3 linked regions of the Homo sapiens genome follow. The protein of the gene in region 2 purifies or fractionates together with the protein of the main gene of each other region. This does not show direct contact. Each region holds a gene or a part of one and is shown on either strand. Other genes may lie near its edges.

Region 1 (7,798 bases), on a different chromosome or scaffold from region 2:
TATGAAATGATTACACACCTCCTTCCCTCCCCCATCAACCCTCTGTTGACTCTCTAATATCACCTAACAAACTATGAAAAAAATCAGCATTTCATTGCCACTTAATCCTTGGTCATTCTGACAAAAAGTGCTCACAGGTGCCCTGGTAATCAAGGTGAGTTTCATGATGAGGGTTGCCCAGGCTCTACAAGTCTACCCAGGCTCTCTGGGATGATAACCTAAATTTCAAGTAGTAATTTGAGAGCTGAAGAACGGGGATAGAGAAAAGAGAGTAATTTTCAATGAGGACATTAGATGCCACATTTAAACAATTCAGTTAACTCTCAGTAGAGAATGAAAGACTTTACTCATAATGGTTCTTTATTATCAGCCAGCCTACAAAGCTTATGGAGCTCAGTCCGACTGAGGCCACCTACAAAGCTGGAATGTTAATAGGCTTATTTCCAAACATGTCCCAGGAAAACTAAGACTACAGTGTGGCTGGAATTAACTTTGTTCCTCACAGCTTATAACCTAATAGAAACAAAAAAAACACTTGAATATTTAAAAAAAAAAAAGGGTGGGTGTCTAGGGAAAGGAATTCATCTTCCTGGCTAGACAGAACAGATGGATAAATTATTTTAATGCCATACCTCTCTCTTCCAAGAGACAGCTTCATAACACACTTTTACTATTTATTCCATCACCACCTCAAACTGTCCTCTTGTGATCTCTTCGTCTGTATTATTCATTACTACTTCACTTCAGCAAATTGTCATTTGAAAAATAAATAACAGATATCCCTTCTAGCACAGAAGAGGAAATTAACTTCTTACCCTTAAATACTGTGGGCTTCATGACTGGGTGCGGTGGCTCACGCCTGTAATCCCAGCACTTTGGGAGGCTGAGGCTGGTGGACTGCTTGAGGTCAGGAGTTCGAGACCAGCCTGGCCCACATGATGAAACCCCGTCTCTACTAAAATACAAAAATTAGCTGGGCGTGGTGGCGAGCGCCCATAATCCCAGCTACTAGGGAGAGGCTGGGGCAGGAGAACTGCTTGAACTCTGGAGGCGGAGGTTGCAGTGAATCGAGATCGCACCACTGTTCTCCAGCCTCAGCAATAGAGCAAGACTCTGTCTCAAAAATAATAATAATAATAATAATAATTTGGGCTTCAATTCAGAAACTAGAAGTAGATACTTAATCATTTATTAGAATCATTTCATCTACTCATTTAGCAACAATTTTCTGAGTGCTTTATTTATATGCCAAACACTCAAAAGATGAAGACACAGCCCTTGCAATCCAAGGCATCTCTGACATGAACAATATAATGCTGTATCAGTCTGACTTTGGAGGTCACGCACTCCAGGAAAAAATAAATGTGTCATCCCTAATATAAATAAACCATAGCTTGAATGAATGAATGAATGAATGAATAAAGCAATAAACCAACTCAGGATAAAACATGAATCCAAATAAATACAAGATCTACCAAGAGGGAGTTTGCTGTTTTTTTCACCACGGGTCCAGCCCCCATAGTAGCAATTACAAGATATTTAAGGCTGAGCTTACCGGTTCCTCCACGGGAGGCTCCTCCATATTTAGAGGGATTTTTGACTCAATGTCCTCCCAGCCAGGAAGGTGGTTAGAAGCTGGGGTGTCAGTAACAATGCCACCATTTTGTACCTTGATGCCATTCACTCTCTGGCAGGTAGAAGGAATGTGGTGAAAGAAGAGGCTCTTCTGTGGCATAGGTAAAAACCAGGCCACAGCAAAAGCCACTGAAACACAGGTAAGAGAGATGACATTCAGGCTGAACAGCGACCAGCCTGCCACTGAGACAAGGATTTGCCCTAGGACAGAGCCCACTGTAAAGCCCACCAAAGTGGCACTTCGACAGTAACTTGTGACTTTCTGGTACATGCCCAGGTCCACCACACTGTAGATATAAGAGTAATAGGCAATTTCAGTGGCTGTGGCGATGCCATAAAAAAATTCTAGAAATTGAATGGCCAGCAGTCCCTGGGCATAGAGCAGCATAAACCATGTAACAATAAGGCTGAGCCCCTGCAGTAGAACAACAGGTTTATAACGGAGGTAGTCTGTGGCAAGGAACACAGGAAACAGTAGCACCAGGTAAGAGTAAGTCCATACTGGATAAATTTCATTGAAGACCTGGTAGAAAGAGAAAAAAAAAAAACAAAAAACATTAGTGATGAAAGGACCTGGAATACTCATAAAGAATTTATTCATAAAAAACAACCTACAAATACCTCAAAGATCTCAACCTTGACAACAGCAGTTCAGATAACTTTGAAAATGTCTTTTCTCTCTTTTTTGTTTGAGATGGAGTCTTGTTCTGCGCCCAGGCTGGAGTGCAGTGGTACGATCTTGGCTCACTGCAACCTCTGCCTCCCAGGTTCAAGTGATTCTCCTGCCTCAGCCTCCCGAATAGCTGAGATTACAGGGACCCACCATCACGCCTGGCTAATTTTTGTATTTTTAGTAGAGGTGGGGTTTCACCATGTTGGCCAGGCTGGTCTCAAACTCCTGACCTCAAATGAGGAGCCTCCCAAAGCGCTAGGATTACAAGGGTGAGCCACCTCGCCCAGCCTGAAATATCCTTTCCTATCCCCAATACCATCATCTTTTTCCTAATAAATTCTTCCCATTAATCAAGGCCTAGTTCAAAGACTTCCTTATTCAGAAAGACTTTGCGGAAGCCAAAAGTACTTGTATTACAACATTCAAACCCTTTTTTTTTTTTTGGTTTTGTTTTTTGTTTTTTTGAGACAGGGTCTCCCTCTGTCACCTAGGCTGGAATGCAGTGGCAGAATCATGGTTCACTGCAACCTCCGCCTCAGGTGAGGCTCAGGTGATCCTTCCACCTCAGCCTCCCCAGTAGCTGGGACTACAGGCCTGTACTACCACAACCAGCTAATTTTTTTTTTTTTTTTTTTTTTTTTTTTTGGTAGAGATAGGGTTTCACCACGTTACCCAGGCTGGTCTCAAACTCCTGGGCTCAAAGCAATCCACCAGCCTCAGCCTCCCAAACTGCTGGGATTACAGACATGTGAGCCATCTGGCCTAGCCTCAAACTCTCCTAATACTGATCTATATGCATCAGTTTCCCCAATTAATTCATAATACTGGCTCTTCACCATGGCTGCATCTCCTAAGAAGCTTTAAAAAAATGTGTTAGCCAAGCGTTGTGGCACATGCCTATGGCTGCTACTCAGGAGGCTGAGGTGGGAGAATTGCTTGAGCCCAGGAGTTTGGGGCTGCAGTGACTTATGATCACACCACTACACTCCAGTCTGTATGACAGAGCAAGACTCTGTCTCTTTAAAAAAAAAAAATGCCCAGCCACAGATATTTTCTAAAAACTTCCCAATAGAGTTTTAAATGAGCCAGAGTTGAGAACAACTGCCTTATAGGCTTTTTAAGGATAGACCCCTACATTCACCTGTATAACCTGTCTAAAAGCCAGCATACTGTTTGGAAGATACTATTCAATAAATGCTTTGAAAACGGAATCACTGTCAATTCTTACTTCTAGACACAAGATAGGGAGCCTTTATCCTACTGTTTCATTAAGCTTCTCTGACTTTAAGTTTTGTTTCTTTTGGGGCAGAGGAACAAATAAAGATGGTCAATGTGTCCTACAGTCTTGACAGAATTAAGTCTCTCTAGATGGCAGGAATATAGGCAACTTTTATGTCCTTCTTTTTGCTTGTTTTTAAATAGAAAAAAGAAGTTTTTGCTGTTTTCTTTCTAATGCATATTTTAAAATTGGGATATAGTAGAAATGATCTTTAAAATAAACTTTAAACCAGAAAGACCCCAACAGGAATTTCAGTTCCATCACTTGCTGTGTGATTGTAGACAACATTCTTTTAGTTCCCCTTAGCCTTAATCTCCATTATCAGTAAAGGGCGGTTGTTTGTTGCAAAAAGTAAATGAGACACAACATGTAAATTACTTACTCCACCTGATTTATTCACAAAGTCTGAAGACTAGAGGACAAGCTGACAAGGACATCTGGGGCAGTATGAATTAACTAAATTAATTGAGCTATCATTCCCATTCTTCCAACAACAATCACTGTAGGAGATTTTTCCTTCCTTTTGTCAGTGGCCTCAACTTTTAAGTGCTTTTTGAAAGGTAGTTTTGGTAAAAGGCTGAATACTTTGTGATGAAGCAACCTAATCCCAGACTTTTACATTCTGAGACCAATAGTAACTTTCTTTTTATCTTTCCTGTACATCTCAGTTCACTCAAGTCTAATATGAGCTAAGGTTCTAAGGTTTTAGGCAAACAATAAAAAATTGTTGCAAAATCTCTTGCCAGTGCAGAGCATAGCTATAAAAGTAAAACATAATCCCTGTTTTCTGAAATACATTCCAGACAAAAGTGATCTGTTTAATGGCCTCACCTTCATGAATTTTGGTCTAATTTGTGTTGGTAAATCAGTTAGCAAGCTCCACTTGATCAGGAAATTTTGTTGCACCTGACTATGTGCCTAAACGAATAATCAAGAAATGTAGAAATGATTCGTATTCAAAACTGTGGAAATTTTAGCAAATGAGGAAAAAAGTGCCCTTAGCTGCATTAAATAACTCTAAGTAGAAAACCAAAGCAGGTAAGGGTAATCTTGAGATTTCCAGTTGTGTTCTAATTAACAACTTGTCATTCCTTTGTGGCCTATACTTTTACAGATACTATCTGTCAGCTTTCTTTTTTTTTTGAGACGGAGTTTCACTCTTGTCACCCAGGCTGGAGTGCAATGGCGTGATCTCGGCTCACTGCAACCTCTGCCTCCTGAGTTCAAGCGATTCTCCTGCCTCAGCCTCCCGAGTAGCTGGAATTACAGGTGCCTGTCACCATGCCGGGCCAATTTTTTGTATTTTTGGGAGAGACAGGGTTTCAATATGTTGGCCAGGCTGGTCTCGAACTCCTGACCTCATGATCCGCCCGCCTCAGCCTCCCAAAGTGCTGTGAACCACCGCACCCAGCCTGTCCATTTTCTAAAGTTTGAAACTGCCTCCTCTGTTTGACTAAGTGTCACCTTCACAATTTCCCCAACATAGCACCATGAAGTACTAGCCATTAAACCTTTCCTTTAAAAATGTCCTCTACTGCTCCCTTCAATAGTTCATCTTCCTTTGTTTTGGGATTTTGGATGACCTCTTCACTCCAATAATATTGTCTGTGCTTAGACATGTTACATAACTTTTAACCATAGTTGTCCCAAAATGATTAACTGCTAAGTTTTCATTGTCTAAGTTTCATCCTTTAAATTATCAATTTAACGTATCTTTACTCATGAGTCTAATTCTACTATTACAAAACTACAATTTAGATAATGAAGATGGAGGAGAGTAACACTGCCAACCTTGCAATAACAACTAAAAACAAAAAGAAAGGCAAATAGGGGAGAGGGGGAAGACCAGATAGTTTCTCTTTAACTTATTCTAAATAAGAAACCTGCATTTTCTCCTTTAAAAGACATCAACCCAGGGGGAATGCCCCACTCACACTATTATCAGCATCATAATAACAAACCTCTACTGCTGTGTTACACACCACGCTAAGCACTTTCTCTAAATTCTCTCTATTTAATCCAAACCACAAACCTAAGGTAAATGCTTCTATCATCTCTATTTTACAAACAAGGAAACTTGGCCTTAAAGAAAGGTTAAGTGAATTGTCCCAAGTTATCACAGGATTGGCAGAAGAAGGATCTGAATTCATAAATTCTGAATCCGCCACACTAAAATGCCTGGTTTCTTCAATCAGAAAACTGCTATTAATCATCTACTATCTTCCAGGTTAATTCTAATGCTTGCAGTAGCTTTTCCAATCTGCACTGAGGTGCTTTTACAGGGCATTCATGAAGAGATAAAGACTACAGTCTCCAGCACTTAACTAATGGGTCTCCAAGGCAGATCCTTTTCTTTTTCAGTGTTTCCAATGACAGCAAAAAATGCTTCCTTGATATTTTGAATCTTGAAGGGAAACATCCTACAGGCAAAAATGTACCAATTACAGACCCTTATTAATTGTCCATACTCCAACTTCTCACTTCACGTAACATCTGCTATGTGAGCAACGGGAATTGATTTTATTATGACCAAGGTGCCTTTCACAACTCTTTGGATCAGTGCTTGTGTTTTCTTGAGCTACAAAGTCAAGGGAAAACAGATGTTCATTTTTAAGTTCTAATTTAGATTTAGGCTTTAAATTAGAATCAAGTTTCAATTAAACAACTAATAGGCAGTTATTTGCACAACATTGTTTTCAACCAGCACGGAGGTGACAAAAAGAATAAAATGGCCAGGCGCAGTGGCTCATGCCTGTAATCCCAGCACTTTGGGAAGCCGAGGTGGGTAGATTACCTGAGGTCAGGCGTTCGAGACCAGCCTGGCCAACATGGCAAAACCCCATCTCTACTAAAAATACAAAAAAATTAGCCGGGCATGGTGGCGTGTGCCTGTAGTCCCAGCTACTTGGGAGGCTGAGCCAGGAGAATCACTTGAATCTGGGAGGCAGAGATTGCAGTGAGCCGAGATCACGCCATTGCACTCCAGCCTGGGCAACAAGAGCGAAACTCCATCTCAAAAAATAAAAATTAAAATTAAAATTAAAAAATTTAAAAAAAAAAGAATAAAATAAGGCTAGGCACTGTAGCTCATGCCTGTAATCCTAGCACTTTGGGAGGCCAAGTTGGACAGATCACTTGAGGCCAGGGGTTCAAAACCAGCCTGGCCAACATGGCAAAACCCCGACTCTACTAAAAATATAAAAAATTAGCTGAGAGTAGTGGCACAAGCCTATAATCCTGGCTACTCAGGAAACTGAGGCATGAGAATCGCTTAAACCTGGGAGGTAGACGTTGCAGTGAGCCGAGATCGCACCACTGCACTCCAGCCTGGGCAACAGAGCAAGACTGTCTCTAAATAAATAAACTGAGATCCTCAGCTCTCCAGGAGTATTGAACCTAGTGAGGAATATATAATATATGCAGTATTTATAATGGAAATAGGAAATACAGGGTTGTTTCTTCAAAATGGACCTTGAAGGATGAGAAACCTAAAGGCTAACAAAGATATCAACAGATATATATGGGAAGATTATTCCAAGAAGAGAATAAGTCTTTGAGTACATGTCAACAGATGAGACTGTGGATATGCTGGACTTAAGACTATTAGATTAATATGAATGGAGCTTGGTTATGTGGAAGTGGTAAGGGGAAGAAGGTTTGTAGTAGGATATAAGGCTGTCAAGGAGGTAAAAACCAAACTTCGTGAGGCTCTGAATATCAGGCAAAATAGGTGGAATGTTTAAAAAAATCTAAGAAAGGTAGTAAATGTCTGTCAAAACACATGCTACAATGATGAAAGGATAAAAAAGTTTTTAGAGATAAAGATCTGTTTTACTGAAAGTCTGGCCTTCAACTATTAACATACAGTCAAATTTTAGCCTGCTTAAAACTTACACACTGGTATCTGTTTTAAAATTAATGCTTTTCCTGAAATCTAAGAAAAAAACTTTTGAGAGTAGACAGAAGAAATCTTTTTCTCCTCTCCTTTTGTTTTAGGATTTAGTTAACAATAGCTCTATTCAAACCAACTTGGCCCTTCTGCAGTCTTCTAAGAGCAAATACAAACTTTAATACAAATGTCGCTGAATATGACTTAGCATTAGCTTTGCTTAAAAATCATGTAATTTTTTTTATTTAACTGTCCATGGCAAAAAACAAGCATTCAGTAAGTAATGAATAAGTTGTTCTATTTATTTCAATTATTAGTTATA
Region 2 (9,318 bases):
TTGAGATGTAAGGTTTATTCAAAGATTATAGCTTCCCATTCTATCAATGCAACCTATACAAATTCTATTTCTTCTTTTCATATCGCATTTTGTGTTTTCAAACACTTGGAGGAAGCAAGAGTCTTCTCCACCATGACTTTAATTTAAACTAAAGCCCTCATTCTAAAATGTCTTCTGCCCACCCCAGTTGCTTCATACATTTGAGAGTATACTTGGAGGCTATGCCTTGTGGATGACTGTCAACCTCTCCTTTTCTGAAATACTGTCCTCCTGTCCAATATCCTTCAACTTACTAACAGTTATTTGACTTTACTCAATCTTTGGTCTGTAATTTATTTGCAATTCTTAAAATTGTTTTTACAGATGTGAGTGAACACTTGTCCTGGAACACAAACAAAGTCCTAAGGCATTGCACAGCAGTGGGGCAAGTAAATGCTCTTTATCACAAGATGTCTAAGAGAGCTCATGGTGTTTACAAGGAAAATACATGCACTTTAATTATTTTGAATGCATTTTACCAGTACGATAATATATGCAGGCTTTCCCCATCAAACATTTAGCACCCAATATATAATGAGACCTTTTCCAGAAATAACTGGAAAACAATCACTTTTCAGGCTTTTAAATTCATTAGCTTTACTTGTCTATTCAATGCCCTAAAGAAACTCAGTCAACTATCATCTATGCTTATAAGACACTGAAAAAAACACCCCGCTCAGAGATCCATTGATCTGATGCCGGATGAACTGATGAGTTTAGTGTTTTGTTATATACCATGCTAGATATTTCTGAGAATATAGATTTTTTATTCCTACTGTGGATTTTAAAAAAACAATAAAGGCTAGATAAACCACAAACTCAAGTTGCAGGGGGCTAGTTTTCTTAGAGAAATTACTAATATCAAAAACAGCCCCAGTACTCATGTGCACACACACTTTAAACAGAAAAGCCTGCACATTTTAAAGGCAAAAGAGAAAGTAAATGTTTAACTAGGTAGTATTGTTTTATTATACATACTTCTAGTCAGAAGGAAGAGAGACTGTGAAAGCAAACCCAAACAAGCTAAGTGTGGATGTGGGCATTTCTACTTCTATTATTTTTTTAACTCACTATTTTCTTGGTTTGATTTTTTTCTAAACTAGAAAGTTAAAGAGGGGAAAAGTACTTGATTCTGTTAAGCATCCTACCATATTACAACAGAGAGGTGTTTGGAGATTCTTGTGCCTTCACAGGCTTGTATCTCCATTCTGCTTGAACTCAGGTAAAATATTGAGGGTCATGTCTTCACTCTTGGATTGCAAATTTGCCTCACTTCTTCTAGAAGCTTTCCTTGTGGCTCGGGAGAGTCTCCTTCTGAAAGTATCTCCCGCCAAGAAATAGAGAATGGGGTCCACACAACTGTTGAGACTTGCTAGACCTCTTGTCACCTGATACGTGGCATAAACCCTGTCATTGAAAGCACACATTGCTGGGGTCTGAAAATCAAGCCGGGCCCTCAAGTTCATCGTTTTCATCACATGGAAAGGGATGTAAGACACAGCAAAAACAGTCAGTACAATGATTACCAGGTAAATCGATTTTCTCCTCAGAGGAGAGTTGTCCAGATCTTTGTAAATCAAAGCTCTCACAATTAATCCGTAACAGCCCAGAATCAGCACCAAGGGGACACAGAACATGGCCACGGTCGTGCACATGCTGTAGATGAAATAACTTCGCAGGTACTCGTCTGAGGTGGTGTCGTAACAGGTGATGGTTTTGTTTTTGCGGACCCCGGTACCTGAGTAGAAGAGGATGGGGGAGATCGCCACCACCACAATGAGCCACACCAGCACGCTGATACAGATCGCATTCTTCTTTTTGAGCCGGCCCAGGGACTTGAGGGGGTACACCACACCGCTGTACCGGTGGGCACTGATGCATGTCAGAAACAAGATGCTGCCATAGAGGTTCACATGAAAGATGAACCTCTGCAGTTTACACATGGCATCCCCGAAGATCCAGTCTGTTTTATTGAAGTAGTAGAAGATCAGGGCTGGCAGAGTCAGCACGTACAAGAAGTCGGCCAGAGCCAAATTGAACATGTACACGGAGATGCCGCTCCAGGGCTTCATGTGGAAGACGAACATCCAGATGGCCACGCTGTTGCCCAGGAAGCCGATGATGAATACCAAGATGTAGACAGCCGGCAGGTAGTAAAACTGGAAGCCCGTCTTGGTCAAGGCGCATTTGAACGACGAGGAGACGGCGGCAGTGGAGGCGACCGTGCTGTTCCCCCAGGACGAACCCGGACCGGCCAGGAAGGCAGCGTCCGTCCCGTTGGGGACAGCCGGCCACAGCACCTCGGTCATTCTCTCCTCCTCGACTTAGGCGGCGGCTCCGAGGGGTAGGAGGCGGCGAGAGGGCAGCGGCGGCCAGGGGCGCAGCAAGCATCGGAAAAGCCAGCGAGCGGAAGGGAGCAGGCGAACTGGATCCCCGCGGGAGGGGGCGCGCAGGGGCTCGCCCACGCCAGCTCTGGCCCCGCGTTCGCCGCGGGCCATGAAATCCGCCCCGGGCCGCCACCGAACTGGGCTATCGGGCAAGCCAGCAACTTCTCCGTCCGCTGGCAACGCCGAGCTTACACAACAGGGCGCGCAGGGAACCGCCGCGGATAACTTTCCGACTGCGCTTTCCCGAGGGGCCGCGGGTCCGCGCTGCAGAGCGCGCCAGAGGCGCAGCGAGGTCAAGGGAAACTCGCTCTGCAGGGCTCTAGCTTGGGGAGGCTGCTCCCCAGCCTCCTTGGCTCAAAGATCAACTTAATTGGGGGCATCTTCCTCCTCCCTACCTTAGAAACGTGCAGCTCAGTTTCGGGGCGTCTAACCGCTTCCTCCGCCCACCCTGAGCTCAGCTCCTGGCAGCCATCGGAGCGCGCGTGGCCGCAGACTCGTGCGCTTCTGCAGCGCGTCCCGTTCGGCGTCCGCGTAGTTCAGGAACCCCTTCCCCAGGCCCAGCTCTGTCCGGAGTGCCGGGGTTAGGCGGGAGAGCGGAGCTCCCTAGAGGGTGGGCGGAGTTTGGGCACCGGGGCGAGTCCGCACTCCGCGGGGAGGCGAGGGGCGTGCCTCCGCCGAGCTCGCCCAGCAGCCAGCCCGCGTCCTCCAGGGCGCAGTGGGAAGCAGGAGGCGTCTTCTGGGGAGCAGGTCTCCGCCGAGGCCGAGTGTGTTCAGCCTCTGCCGGCACGCTGCTACCGGAGTCGGCGGCGAGGGAGAGGGGTGCGCTCCAAGGTGGCTGCTGGCAGGCGATTGGCCCGCGAGCGCTCCTTCCCTCTTCCGCCAGCTATCTCGGCAAAGTGAAGTTGCTGACACACAGGAAACCCTTCCGACCGCTTAGAGCCTTCTGCCTACAACCCCAGAGCCGACCAGTCCGTAGCAGGAGCCTCTAGGGCCCTCGAGAACCACGCCAGGTGTTTTCAAGCTCCAAGCAGCCAGGAGTCCCTAGCTGGGAACGCCTGTCATTGCAGAGCGTCTAGCTTTGCCGGGACCGGATTTCTGGCACATGCAGGAACCTGCTATTCCAAGAGGGCGCGAGCCTCCAAAGGAATGAGGGTTGGGAGAGGAGTGGAGAACTCTGTTTCGCCCTTCTTACCTTTTTTTTTCTTTTTTTTAAATTCTAGTACTGTTTTTTCTTAATTACCCAAATGCTAATAAACCCACGTCATTAATAACATCAACGTGAGAATTTCCAAAATAGTCTTGTGAAGATATTACTAGTCCATATTGCACATTGCTTCAGCTCAAATTTGTCGTCATAGATACTTAACACCTATCAGACAAGACAAGCTCCCCAAATCCTCCTGTTCAGTACATTTAAAGATCAGAAGCTACAATGAAAAAAAAAAATTCGAAATTTATCCCTTTGAAAGTAATTTGAATGCCAAATGCAATACATTTATATTGATAGACGTAAAAGACGGTTATAATTCCAAAGTGACTAAGGTATGGTTTTGGTAGGGGGTGGCGGGGGGAGGGGGGTATTTCCAATTCTATTTCTTTAAGTTAAAGTGATTAGTTACAATTACCTCTAGTATCTTAAAAATACAGACTTGGGACTTCCTTAATTACTACATTTACTGACAAACTCGTTTTCTTGCCTTGAATGTAAATTTTAAGCAATGCACTTCAAAAATGTATTTGAGCAAGTTTAATTGGAAACTAAATGAAATATTAGCTGTTCAGGAACATATATAAATGGACCCGCACAAGAATGGAATCTAGCACTTCTTGACAAGTTACTAGTTAATGTATTTTTACATGACACATTAACAAAAGCTTTTCTCTTAGAGGAAAAAAAATCCAAAAAGAAAATATCTGTAAAATATATAACATCAAGATTTCTTTCTGGTCCCAGATGCTACATGATAGTGTTCCCTTAAAAAATAAAGGAAAACCACGAGCTCCTGGCTTTGATACCACAAAGGAAAATATCCCCCACAAGATCCAGATGGTTCTTTAGAGGAACACATATAGGAAGGAGCATATCTTAGCACATGGTATGAATACACTGGGTTTTGAATTGTAGTCAATTGAACAGCATAAAAATTAATAATAAAACAAGAGTAAATAATTCAAGTAAACAGTGTGAATGAGGTTGTCTTGAAAAGTCTTACTTTTTGTGTTTCCTTCCAATCTCCTGATTATATGAGTCTATGATTCTGAGCCTTAACATGAAACATTTGTGTATTGTTTGATTAGTATGGTCCTAGGTGGGATGATTGTCTATTAAGAGAGAAAAGGAAGCAAAGAAAACCATTAAGGGTTCCAGGGGTACTCAATAGGTCTTAAGTCCTCACTCCTTTGCATTTTTTATTTGCAACCTAGGCAATATCTGACTTCACTCAGAAGTTTGTTGCAAATGCATTAACTCATAATGTGAGTGTTTTGAAATGTACACTTAGTCCAGATACCATTAAGTACTTGCAGAAAACTGACACCTTACTAGGAATTGGGGGATAGTTGTTTTAAGTGCACCACAGACTTTTTAAAAAATGATGTTAAAAAATAAATTTTGGGCTGGGCGCTGTGGCTCACGCCTGTAATCCCAACACTTTAGGAGGCCGAGGTGGGCAGATCACGAGGTCAGGAGATGGAGACCATCCTGGCTAACACGGTGAAACCCCCTCTGTACTAAAAATACAAAAAATTAGCCGGGTGTGGTGGCGGGCACCTGTAGTCCCAGCTACTCGGGAGGCTGAGGCAGAAGAATGGTGTGAACACAGAAGGCGGAGCTTGCAGTGAGCTGAGATCGAGCCACTGCACTCCAGCCTGGGCGACAGAGTGAGACTCCGTCTCAAAATAAATAAATAAATAAATAAATAAATAAACAAACTTTGTAAGCATTGCTTTTGCATTCAACATATTTAACTACACAGTTATGTTTCAGTTATGCTTTAAATCAAAATTTTGCCTTGTGGGAATAAGTTACATATATTCAGTAATTACTATAACTTTCTATTTGTAAAACATTCAACTATTATTAATGAAGAAAAAATCTAAGAATCATTATTCACATTTGAACATCAATTATAGATGGCTTAAAGACATGATAAAAAATTCTTACATATTTAAGTGACATCCCTAAGCATTCCATGTTAATTTTTTTTTTTTTTTTTTTGAGACGGGGTCTCACTCTGTCGCCCAGGCTGGAGTGCAGTGGCGCAATCTCGGCTCACTGCAAGCTCCACATCCCGAGTTCATGCCATTCTCCTGCCTGGCGTGGGACTACAGGCGCCCGCCATCATGCCCGACTAATTTTTTTGTATTTTCAGTAGAGACGGGGTTTTCACAGTGTTAGTTAGCCAGGATGGTCTTGATCTCCTGACCTCATGATCCGCCCGCCTCAGCCTCCCAAAGTCCTGGGATTACAGGCATGCATGAGCCACCGCGCCCGGCCTGCCATTACTTTTAATGGCAGTCTTGGACTCATAAACAAAAAGGTTGCCCTTCTTATGCCCTTATATTTAAGTAGCAGTGTAAGAACCTGACTTCAAGAGATTTACAATTTAGTTGGAAATGCAAATAATATATATAGCTAACCATAATAGTAAATATAACAATAGCAATAAAAATAGGCCTTTGCTGTACACTCAAGTACTGTGTACATGTAAAAAGGATTATCTCTTTTCACCCTTAAAATATGCATGATGATATTTGGCCATTGTATTCCCATTTTATAAGTGATGAAACTAAGGTACAGGGAGGTTAAGTAATTCACCCATAGTCACACAGTAGATACTGGGATTTAAATGTAGGCTGTTTGTCACTGAAGTCTATGCATTCAGCCACTATCCCATGATGAAAAAAAGCAAATACGGGGCACTGAGAGAAACGTTAACTTTTAGTGGCCAGCACAGATTGCGTTTAGAAAGCGTTACTCCCAGAAGCCTTCCCTCAGGAGAGAAAATTCTAAGCCAGATATTGAAGTTATTGATAGTCAAAGAGTATTTCAGAAGCTTCTAAATATTCCACTTCTCTACATAGGCTTCTTAAAAACAGCCAGCGATTTACCTATAATCTGAGAGAGAAAATCACTGGGACATCAGATCTGTTGAGTTTTAGACTCATAAACAAAAAGGTTGCCCTTATTATGTTTACAAAGATTTTTATCACCATATTTAGAAAATCTCTATTTTCTTTTTCTTTAAGCCACAGAAAATCCAACAATCATTAAGAATGGGAAAATCATTGGAAAAATTCCAATTGAGGGCCACAGGCAGAAAAGGGAAAAAGAAACTTCTCATAAACATAAAATATGAAATCTCCCATCTGAGTAGAGACCAAAAAACCATCAGATTTGACTAAATAAATATCATACCACAAATGCTAAACCTAATTCTGGTAGCAATATGAAGGAAGTTGGGAGCTGATAGGTAAGACAGCTGTTAGGATTTACGGAGGAGAGACGATGAGACCCTGATTTATGAGATAAAGGTTCATCTCATATCCTTTAGAAGGATATCATTAGGATATCCTTCTAAATTGAACTTCTGAGATTCACTTTAGGAAAGGGAGGAGACCCTTTCCTTCCCCAAGAAGAAAATAAGAGAAAGAAATAGGAGAAGTGTAAGGAATTCCCAGCTGATGTCCACCAATGAAGTAGGAGAAGGAGAAGGCTAAGATGGAGCAGAATTGGAAAGAGAGTATACAGAGAAAAAATTAGGATTGTCCTGTGCCAAGGAGGGCCCAGCTGCTCCTATAAATTATACACTTGTCATGGATCCAATCAGTAGGCTTCCTGAAATTTATTTCATTAAGAATCACAGCAGGGGTATAGGACACAGAATATACCCAGCAGGATTGATCTGAAGTTGAGTGAGGAAAAAGGGAGAAGAGAGCAAGAGAGCAAGAAACAGGAGGCCAGCGGGGAGAGGGGAGAGGAAATAATAATAATAATAATAATAATAATAATAATAAAAAGCAGACAGTGAAATGAAGAAGAAGAGGAAGAAGTGGGAGAGGGAGGAGGAAGAGGGAAGTACAGGAGGAGAAATAGTGCCTGAACAGTATTTGGGGGACAGAGGAAGAGAAAGCAAGATACTTGCACAGGCATAGGAAGAAGGTTTTGGAAATATCACTGAGCATAGCTTTTCTATTATTTAGGTTTAAATCTGGGTGTGTTGGGAGGTGCCTGGAAGGTGGTGAGATGATGCAAGCTATGCAGTCATGTGGCCAATGTCCCTATTGAATCATATGTCATTGAGCTAAGTTCTCTATATGTGCCTTTTCACTTACAAGTACCTGTCAGATCCCAGGCCACCTAAACCTTCTTCCATCCTTAGAAAGTTTCTTGCTTCCAAAGTTAAGAATAAGTATTCAAGGGAACTCCTTTCTTATACTTCTTTTTAAAATATTTACTTCTTTTATCTCATCTACATGAAGCCCTAGTCCCTAGTCCTGAGCACTTTACAATACTTTCAAAAAGCATTTTTGTTAAAATACAGAGTAAAAAACTTTAGTCCATCCTGTCTTGTAGAACTTTCTTTAATCATCCTTTTCTGATAAAAATTTCCTTTGCTGTCTTTGTCTTTGACATCTCTGTTTTATTAAAGGTGTGTCTTAGAACATTTACTGATAACAGACTAGAAATCCTGTATTACATGCCAGCTGTTCTACAATTTCCTTATATACTTAGCATTTTAAGAAAACAGAGAAATAAATATTTATAAAGCCTGGGGGTACACAAGTATCTTTAGAGCCAGTTGCTTAAATCTTTGGTCTTATACCATAATTATGAAACCATACGGAGTTCCTATGATACCACCAAGAATAAAAATATGACATTATTTGAGAGTTATTTGTCATTATTACATCTATCATATGTCAATTACTGATGTTTGGTACATCTGTATTTTGAATACATAAGCTTAATTCCAAGTAAGCAAATGAAAATCATGTGTAAGAATAAAGAAATACCCCTGTGTTTCTTATGTAAGTCACATCTTCCATCAGTTTACTCCTGGGATGTTGATCTCAATTATGTCCTGAATGTTTCACACTTTTCAAGATTAAAGTTAATTGCAGTTGGTGTCACCTTTCAGATTTTGGAATTTGTTTGTCCAAAGAGTTGGTGACAAATTTTCACCAGTAGCACTGAAAATATAAACTAACTTTAAAAAGATGAGCATTAATTGTATCCGTCTTTATAAATTATTCTGGTGCTACTTTTAGTTGAAATTCTTTTGGAAAAGCTGGCAAAATAAGTTAATTCCAGACAGTCTTCTTATAACAAGCCAAAATTTAGACATTCTTATGGAAAGATATCTGGGTAGCCAAAGACAGCACCAAATGAGTCAACCTAGTAAGAAGAAATAGTCCCATACATTGTTTATAAAATAAAATCAATATATAAACAGTTATTTGTAGTTAGAAAAGAACCAACATAGAGACTAGGTAATGCTTCAGGCAAACAATAATCAGTTACTTCTGGATATACTTATGTTTTCGATGATAGAGTTTAGCAGAACCTCAGTATCTCAAATTAGTTTTGTTTTTCTTCATTTTTCAGCCTTAGTTCTAGACAGCTGATACCGCAGCTAAATATTTATCTTACAGATCCTCATAGTGATAATAACTACCTAAGTAAAATACTAATTTCCTCACTGGAAACATCTACTTTGAGTCTCACTCAAGTGAACGCACTTGAATGTGCATTCAGATCACCCAGGGGATTTTCCTAAAACACAGTTTTAAGTATGAGATGGGGCCAAAGCGTTTGCATTTCTAACAAGTTCCCTTTGACATCCAAGCTCCTCATCCAGCCACTACATTCTGAGTAGCAAGGTTTTATGTG
Region 3 (7,798 bases), on a different chromosome or scaffold from region 2:
AAAGACAATTGAGAATAGTCCTAACTTTTATCCTAATTTAAGCATATGTGTTCAGTCAGAGAGAGAGGATAATTTAACAGTATGGGTGACTTCACCCACCAGCCATTGTGTTCAATGAGCCCATGCCTGATGTGAAACTGAAATGGGGATCATTAATCTGTTGCTCCAGCAATTTCTGACACCCTCCCCAAAAGTGAGTATCTCATTATGCTGAGGGGAATCTAGTATTTTAAGAAACATATTTTTTGGTAAAACATGGCCTCTAAATGAAAGCCACTTACTTCATCTTGTGTGCAGCCAAAACAATGATATTCTAGTATAGAAAAAAAAAAAGGAAAAAAAGAAAAGAGTGTTTTGAATTTGGTCTTTACTATGGCCATAATAAACCTAGCATCATCTGTCACCAAAATCAAGAGCCATTGTCACAAAATCATGGCAACAAGGACCCCAGTTACTACAGAGGGGTTGAGCAAAGTGAATAAAGATATTTTGATGAAGATTTAACAGGTAGGCGTTTATGACTTGTAGCCATGCAACTGTTTCTAGAACATTTTGCCAAATCTTACGAGAAAATACGTAAATGATTTTTGGGTTTCTAATTAGGAGTGAATTGGTGAATACACATTCGGGTGGCCAGACAAGTGGGTGACCATCTCTTCATGGACAGCCCTAATGAAGGCCTTGCTGAATTAGGAGGGCTTTACAGAGGAAGGCTGATGAATCAATAAGTAAAGGGAGCAACAAAACTGTATAGAGATAAAAAGAAAACAGCAAGGGACAGAAAGAGCCAGCAGGTTGGAGTCTTCATAAATTGGCTGAACTGTTCCAAACAGCCAAAACCCTGATGGCTTTAATTTCTGAACATGAACATTTTATGAAACAGGTCTCAAAATTACATGGAGTATACCAGAAAGTTTTGATCAGCACAAAAGATAACAGCCACAGTGTCACTCACCTTATTTTTCTAGTGTAATAAACCAGCAGCTTATGTGAGTCTGTGCTGTCCATATCAACCACTGACTTTTCCAACACCAAAGCCCCGCCTGCCATCGCCTCAGTGGAATCAATTCTTGGTGACTCTCAGGGACTGGGTCACTAGCAGATGTAGATGATCAAGCTGAATGTGATCAAATGACCAGTTCCATCATTTCAAACAGCAATATACAGCCAAAGTTCAATGGTCATTGTTCATCCTTAGCTCAATAGCACTAACCTATTTGTCATTTCAGCGTATCTTTAATTTATTAAAACCAACAAGAATACATAAATGAAAGGAGAGGGTACAGGTTTATTTTCTTTGTTTTTCATATCAATGTTAATGTTGATCTATCTCATTATTTAAAATACTGTACAATTATTGTTGACAAGAGACCCCTTCATCATATACTTTATACATTTATACACACATATTACTATAAAGGAATCTATGCACACAAGGATATACTGTATATTGTACTTAATATAAAGTATATTTAATATACAGTACAGCTTATAGGCTGACTAAAAGTCTCTTCAGACATTTTTTGTGTGTGTAAGATTATTTTTATCTTGAAAGATGACTCTAGAACCTCACCTTTCCTTAAGCAGACATCATCCCTGAAGAAGAGACACCACTATAATCAACGAAAAAAAGAGGCAGCTTTGGCTGTAGGAGACTAGGAAATATTGGCCAACCTATACTGCCTGGTGATTTCAGTTCCAGACACTGGCCTAAGGACTTTACCTAAATGAACTCATTGGCTCTTCACAATAACCTTAAGTGGTACTAATGTTGAGGAAAATAAATACCAAATAGATTAATTGACTAGACCAAAGTCACATCGTAGTAAATAGTAGAGCTGGGCTCAATGCAATCAGAATGAGTCCAGGTTCTGAACTTTCAACCCCACTCTCTACACTAGATGGCCATAGCTGCCTGCCTGGCAGCCACACTCCTTCGAAGGACTGCCTCCCCCACATGCTTCCATTGCAGTCATCAGCTATGATCTGCAATTTATGGTTGTGTTCCTTACCACCAACTCTGGCTTCTTTTCTTTGCCAGATATGAAAACTTTTTCAAGGGCAGCCAATCTGTAAGTGCACTAGCAATCTACGACTTGTAAGTCGTGAATTGAATCCAAAAAGATGAATTGGTTCAATTGGCCTTCTTTCTTGAGAACGGGGAAAAGATGACTCTCAGTATGCTCTGAGGATCTCTTTATCCCACGGCAAATTTTAATAATAACTATGCTGCCCCATCTTTCAGCTACTCTGGGTGAATCTCTATTCTTTGCAATCGAAAGACCTCTAAGTAAAACAAATCTTCAGATCCTTTTAGGAGTCTTACATAAAGAGGCTTACTGCTAAGAAATTTTCCCTGAGTTTAACCTGGTGAGTCGAAGCTGAATCAACTGTATATTTAATGTATTAAATTTCAACTTTGACACCAGTCTTTCTTTAGTGTATTCTTGATGATTTTGATTTTTTTCCCTCACTGATCTTTGATTTTTTACAATTTAAATAAATTCGTCCCTAAATCATTGCCTACCAGTAAGTATTGGTAGTATAATATTTGGAGAACTATTGCAAAGAAATTAAAGAGACAGAATGTGTCTGGTTTATTAATAGATTTATAATCCTTAATATGTCATTGAAGTCTGTAGACTAGTGGCTAAGAAAATAACAAAAACAACATCAAAAATCTTTAAGCAGTCATTTAAGTGTAAGAATTAATAATTTGCTTCTTAGCTGTTGGCTACTCACAGACCTATGAAAAGGGAACTGATTTTATCCATCTAGTGGACAGACTTCGTCTCAGCAAATGCTGTCACAAATCATCTCTTCAGCTGCCATTTCTGCATTTGGATAACAAGGCTAAAAGAAACATAGAGAATCAGATTTTATAAAGCATATAGGAAAAATCTCTCCTAAGATTTCACAGCTGTGCTTTTACTAGCATTGTGCTTAACCTGAAGTGTCCTCCTGGGCGTAAGAAATTACTTTTACCGCTTGGTATTTTCAAATGTAGTTCTACAACATCTGTCAGTAGGGAAAATTAGTTATATTTTTAATAAAGTTCAATAGATATTCGTAGAACTTCTGCATTGTTGTGGTTATTATGTCTGCTGTGGTTTAGATATAACATTTTAGAATTTTGTCATTTTATATTTTCCTTGGATCAGTTGCTAATTATGGTTTCTTTTAGTGTCTGTGGTACTGTTTATCTCAGAGATCCAAAATATCAATAACACATTTCTAACATCTTGTTCAGATGAAGGATATGAATAGATTTTTCACAATGTCATTAAAATGAGTGAATTCACCTTTTCAAATGAAAGTGCTTGATATAGTTACTTCATTAATTCCTTGAATTAAAGTTTAAATATTTAAAGAGACTAAATGAGAAGTACAGCGTGATAGATAGATAGATATTGATAGTGTCCTTGGAGTGATGGCTTCTAAGACATGATTTTTAGAAATTAATTATTCCTTAATTCATCAGAAGACAATGGCTCATGAGAGATTCATAGGATACAGGAGATAACTTCTAGTTTGTCCATTGCGAACTCCATTTTCCCCCAAGCAAAAACCCCTCCCCACCATTCAAAATGTTTGACAGTTTTCTTTTTCATACATCGAAGGCAGACTGCCTGGCTTACTTTCAAAAATCCTTTTGGATAGCATCCATACTAACAGGTGGCACAGCTGTGGATTAGCTGACATTATAAAAATAATTCATGTTTTTCCATGTGCTTTCAAGTTGTGACCATTGTCTTGGATATTCTTAATCCAACAGTAACTTACTTCTTTGTACTGTGAACAACATAAAGAAAGAAAAACAGAAGATAACTGATTTTTTTTTCAAATTGTGAGTGGGAAATATAACTTTGGTCAAAGATGAGACTCAGTTCCTTATTGGAGTCTGTTTATAGAGTTTACTAGGGAATTAAGTTATAATATGAGGAAATCTGAGGTCAGAGAAAAAAGGAAGAATGACTGTCGGCTTTTAAATGATGTGTATTAAGAGATGTCAACATGTTAGAACATTAACTGCTGTATATATCCAGATTGATTTCCCAAAGAAAGAAAGACACTTTCTTACATTGTTTCAATTGTTTAATGTTTTTGGACTTAAATTTTTATCATATGAGAAATGATGAGTTTTACTTTACTTACCTCCATCAAAGAGAGGAATTGGATGAAATCTATCCCTGAGAATGATGCTAGAAACATAAAAGAGATTGTTCATATTGTCTCCTAAAAGGGGATGGTCATGCTTTTTCTTGGTTATCAAGTAAAAGTGAGGCAATTAAAGTATTTTGCTAATTAGCATTCTTCATTGATTTATAATAGAACTTTCAATGTCTGGGAAACTATTTTCTACATTTTTATGGTTGCAATTAATATTCCCCATTAGAAAGGTTATTTGAATGGTGAATTACCTATTCTTTCTTAACAAAAATAAAATATGGGAGAAAAACTTTACACCTGTATTTATTCCGATTGTTGTTTTATGCAACAAAGTTTAGTTAATAATTCAAATAAAGAACTAGTACACGGCCAAATTACCTTCCCCCCAAAACTTGACAGCTTTTTTTTTTGAAAAAAAAATTTTTTGAGATTCTTCTACACATTTCCTGTGTTGGTGGATATCCACTTTCATTTTGTTTTTGTTTTGTTTTGTTTTTGTTTTTTTGAGATGGAGTCTCGCTCATCGCCCAGGCTGGAGTGCAGTGGGCTATCTTGGCTCACTGCAAGCTCGACCTCCCAGGTTCACGCCATTCTCCTGCCTCAGCCTCCCGAATAGCTGGGACTACAGGCGCCCGCCACCACACCCAGCTAATTTTTTGTGTTTTTAGTAGAGACAGCATTTCACTGTGTTAGCCAGGATGGTCTCGATCTCCTGACCTCGTGATCCGCCCGCCTCTGCCTCCCAAAGTGCTGGGATTACAGGCGTGAGCCACCGAGCCCGGCCCACTTTCATTTTTAACAGCCTATACCATATCAGTTTTTCTGTTCAGTTTCGTTATTGAACATCAGAAACATAATTAAGTACTTTTACTAGCATGATTTATTTGTCAAGGAAAATATTAATAATAATAGCTAATATTTAATAATCCAGGCACTGTTCTAAGCATTTCATATGCAGTGTCTAATGTCAATATATCTTAACACTAGTTAATAAATATTGATTACAGCTTTTTAATAAATATCAAATGTTCTTTGACTTTACGGTCACACTATTTAGTCAAGGGCCATTGGGTTCAAACTCTACAGGAAACTAAGAGAAAACCTCACACAAACATCCAGAGAAAAAAAGAATTGTCATGTAACAAAATGAGGTAGTCTTCCATTTCAGTTCCAAGAAAGATTATGAGGTGGGCAGAAGGGAGAATGAGCCAAATGATTTCTCCATTTTTCTAGTTAAAAATTTATTTTTCCCACAATAAGGGCATTTAAATTCAAATTTTTGGAACCACAGACTGTACATTTGAGTGGCAGTAAGGAATTATATTTATTTTTCTTCAAACACCTTTCAATATTTCAATATTCAATAATAGAATTCATTATTAAAATAAGGATTGAGCAATGTTTGAACAATGGAACTCTTAGATATGACACTGAATGTGGTTTGTCAATTTAAAACCAACCATAGGCTTTGAGAATCTCTGTTTTAAATAGTACCAATGTATTACCAAAGCCAGATTCATTTAGTGGTTTATTGTCTCAGAGACGTTATTTTAGTTTTTCATCAAGTTAAAAAAAAAAACCATTTTACAGTGAAAAGAATGCTTTGAATATTAGTCAGAATAATTGAACTTAAAGCATTTTAAATCTCTGCTCAACCTTTCACAGTAGAAAGTTGTAATTGAGTCATAAGATCTAGAATTCAGAAACCACCCACTCAGATTGTCTCCATGAATTTTAAATATGTATAAGGGCCAGGAGTTTTTCAATTGACCATCATAATGAGTGGCCAATTGACTTTTGGTTTCCCAATCAGATGACCTGTGTTAAAGCCCTGGCTCCTTTTCTCCACCTTCATTTTCTCTGTAACTTAATCTGTGTTATTCAACCATATTTTTTTCAAAATCTCCATTTTGAGAATTAATTTTCTCTACCATTATCTTTGGGTTTAGGTCTGTTTAATGTGAGTTAGATGTAATAAAGACTAGGTAAAAGCGCCTATTACAATTCCTGGAACATACTAGGAGTTGAGTAAATGCAGATTCCTTCTCCATGTTTCCTTTCCTCTCATCTTAACACACTGTGCCCATTTAAAAAGGTGACCAAGCAATTTTCCTTGAGTCAGAGAGTCAGAATTAAAGGACTAATAACTTTTTCGAATTGTTGTAACAGTTATTTCTTAAATGTTTGTCACTTACTATATGGCATATCTTACTGTTTTTTCTTATGTATGTGTTATGCTGTAGCTCCATTCTCAAAGTACAAATTCCTGAAGGGTAAAGTTTTTATCGTTTGTTCATGAACCCAACCTGCAAAGTGCTCTGAATACAAACCCATTCATAGCTGATGATGATGATGATGATGATGATGATGATGATGATGATGAAACGAGAACAGGAGGAGAAAGAGAAGGAAGAGGGGAGGGGAAGAAAAAGAAGAGGATAAAGAGGAAGAAGAAGAGGTCAATTGTGCAGACTAAAGAAAGAATAAAACACAATTTTTCCCCTAAATAGAGACAGATCTAACAGAGCAGCTAAACCTGGCTTGGGAGAATGCAGCAAGGACTCCATTTTATGTCATTAGATTTGAATTAAAAATAATTCTTTTATTCTTTGACCTGAAATATATTCAGTAGTTTGGTAGCAGCTTTCTTGAAAATGAATAGATTTTCTTTTTTTATTATTAAAGAGCCCACACATATTTTTAGCATTGTGATTCTGGCAATGAAGTCAAATACATTAAACTGTCAGATTCAGCAAATGGTTACTGAAACTTGGAAAATTATGTCATAATATTTTATAATACGCTGTTAAAATTTAACAAAGTAGTTTACAAATTTGCTGACACTAGGCTTACTGTGTTCATTCATAAGTATTGATCAAAGAAAACAAAATTACATAAGAAATAACAGTTTGAAATCATTGAGGACAGTTTAATAAGATAAGACCTTTTCTAGGATATGTTTAGTAATGTTCAAGGTAATGAATTTAAAAAATAGCATGCAATGAGTAATCAATTTTCTTTTGCCTTCTTTTACGCTTTATTTTAGTTTTTGTATTTTAATTGGTATATAGTCTCACACAATTGGCTTATATTTTAGATGGGATCAAGACAGTATCTGAAAACAGGGCATTTGAGCTCTGGTCAATGGTATCGGAAGAGTATTTCCATCTAACCTTTCAATGCTCATCATATTCTCTCTACAATTTTGGTGTACTAAGTTTTTTGATGTATTAATCACTAATTTGTGTTTTGAGATGAACTTGTGATACCATTATTTGGTGGAATTGAGAATGAATTCTTGTTAAACAACTGAAATAACTTCATGTTTTATAGGCCAGTTGTATAGCCAGGCTGAAAAGTATAATCTTGAAGAAAGATAAGCTTATTTATTTATGTGTTACTTTTACATAGTAACTTTTTTTTGCAACACTGCACGAAAATTTAATTCACAAAGAGACAGCAAGCATGTATTTCCATGATTGATCTCTACAACACTGTTTAGCAACTTTGAACCCCCTCCAAATGATTGGGATCTGCTCATTATACTTATACGGAGTGTAGTATGCTTACCAAAGGTCTAAAAGGAGCTACTGATTTATGATACATGTGGTTCTTTCATATCATCTGT

The links. Proteins that work in one complex are often made in the same cells at the same time.
Region 1: the proteins of P2RY1 (region 2) and SLC19A2 purify together in Homo sapiens (affinity purification with mass spectrometry; 2 studies listed by BioGRID and IntAct, with this or other methods). This does not show direct contact.
Region 3: the proteins of P2RY1 (region 2) and GPM6A purify together in Homo sapiens (affinity purification with mass spectrometry; 2 studies listed by BioGRID and IntAct, with this or other methods). This does not show direct contact.

Annotation. Positions count from the first base shown.
Region 1 is NC_000001.11:169,475,600-169,483,397, forward strand, and holds part of SLC19A2 (thiamine transporter 1), read right to left. Parts: intron 2,159-7,798; coding exon 1,556-2,158; intron 1-1,555. UniProt on the Homo sapiens protein: High-affinity transporter for the intake of thiamine. Mediates H(+)-dependent pyridoxine transport.
Region 2 is NC_000003.12:152,828,813-152,838,130, reverse strand, and holds the start of P2RY1 (P2Y purinoceptor 1), read right to left. Parts: upstream 3,001-9,318; 5' UTR 2,349-3,000; coding exon 1,227-2,348; 3' UTR 1-1,226. UniProt on the Homo sapiens protein: Receptor for extracellular adenine nucleotides such as ADP. In platelets, binding to ADP leads to mobilization of intracellular calcium ions via activation of phospholipase C, a change in platelet shape, and ultimately platelet aggregation.
Region 3 is NC_000004.12:175,801,920-175,809,717, reverse strand, and holds part of GPM6A (neuronal membrane glycoprotein M6-a), read left to right. Parts: intron 1-955; exon of another isoform or gene 956-1,117; intron 1,118-2,746; exon of another isoform or gene 2,747-2,853; intron 2,854-3,638; exon of another isoform or gene 3,639-3,792; intron 3,793-7,798. UniProt on the Homo sapiens protein: Involved in neuronal differentiation, including differentiation and migration of neuronal stem cells. Plays a role in neuronal plasticity and is involved in neurite and filopodia outgrowth, filopodia motility and probably synapse formation.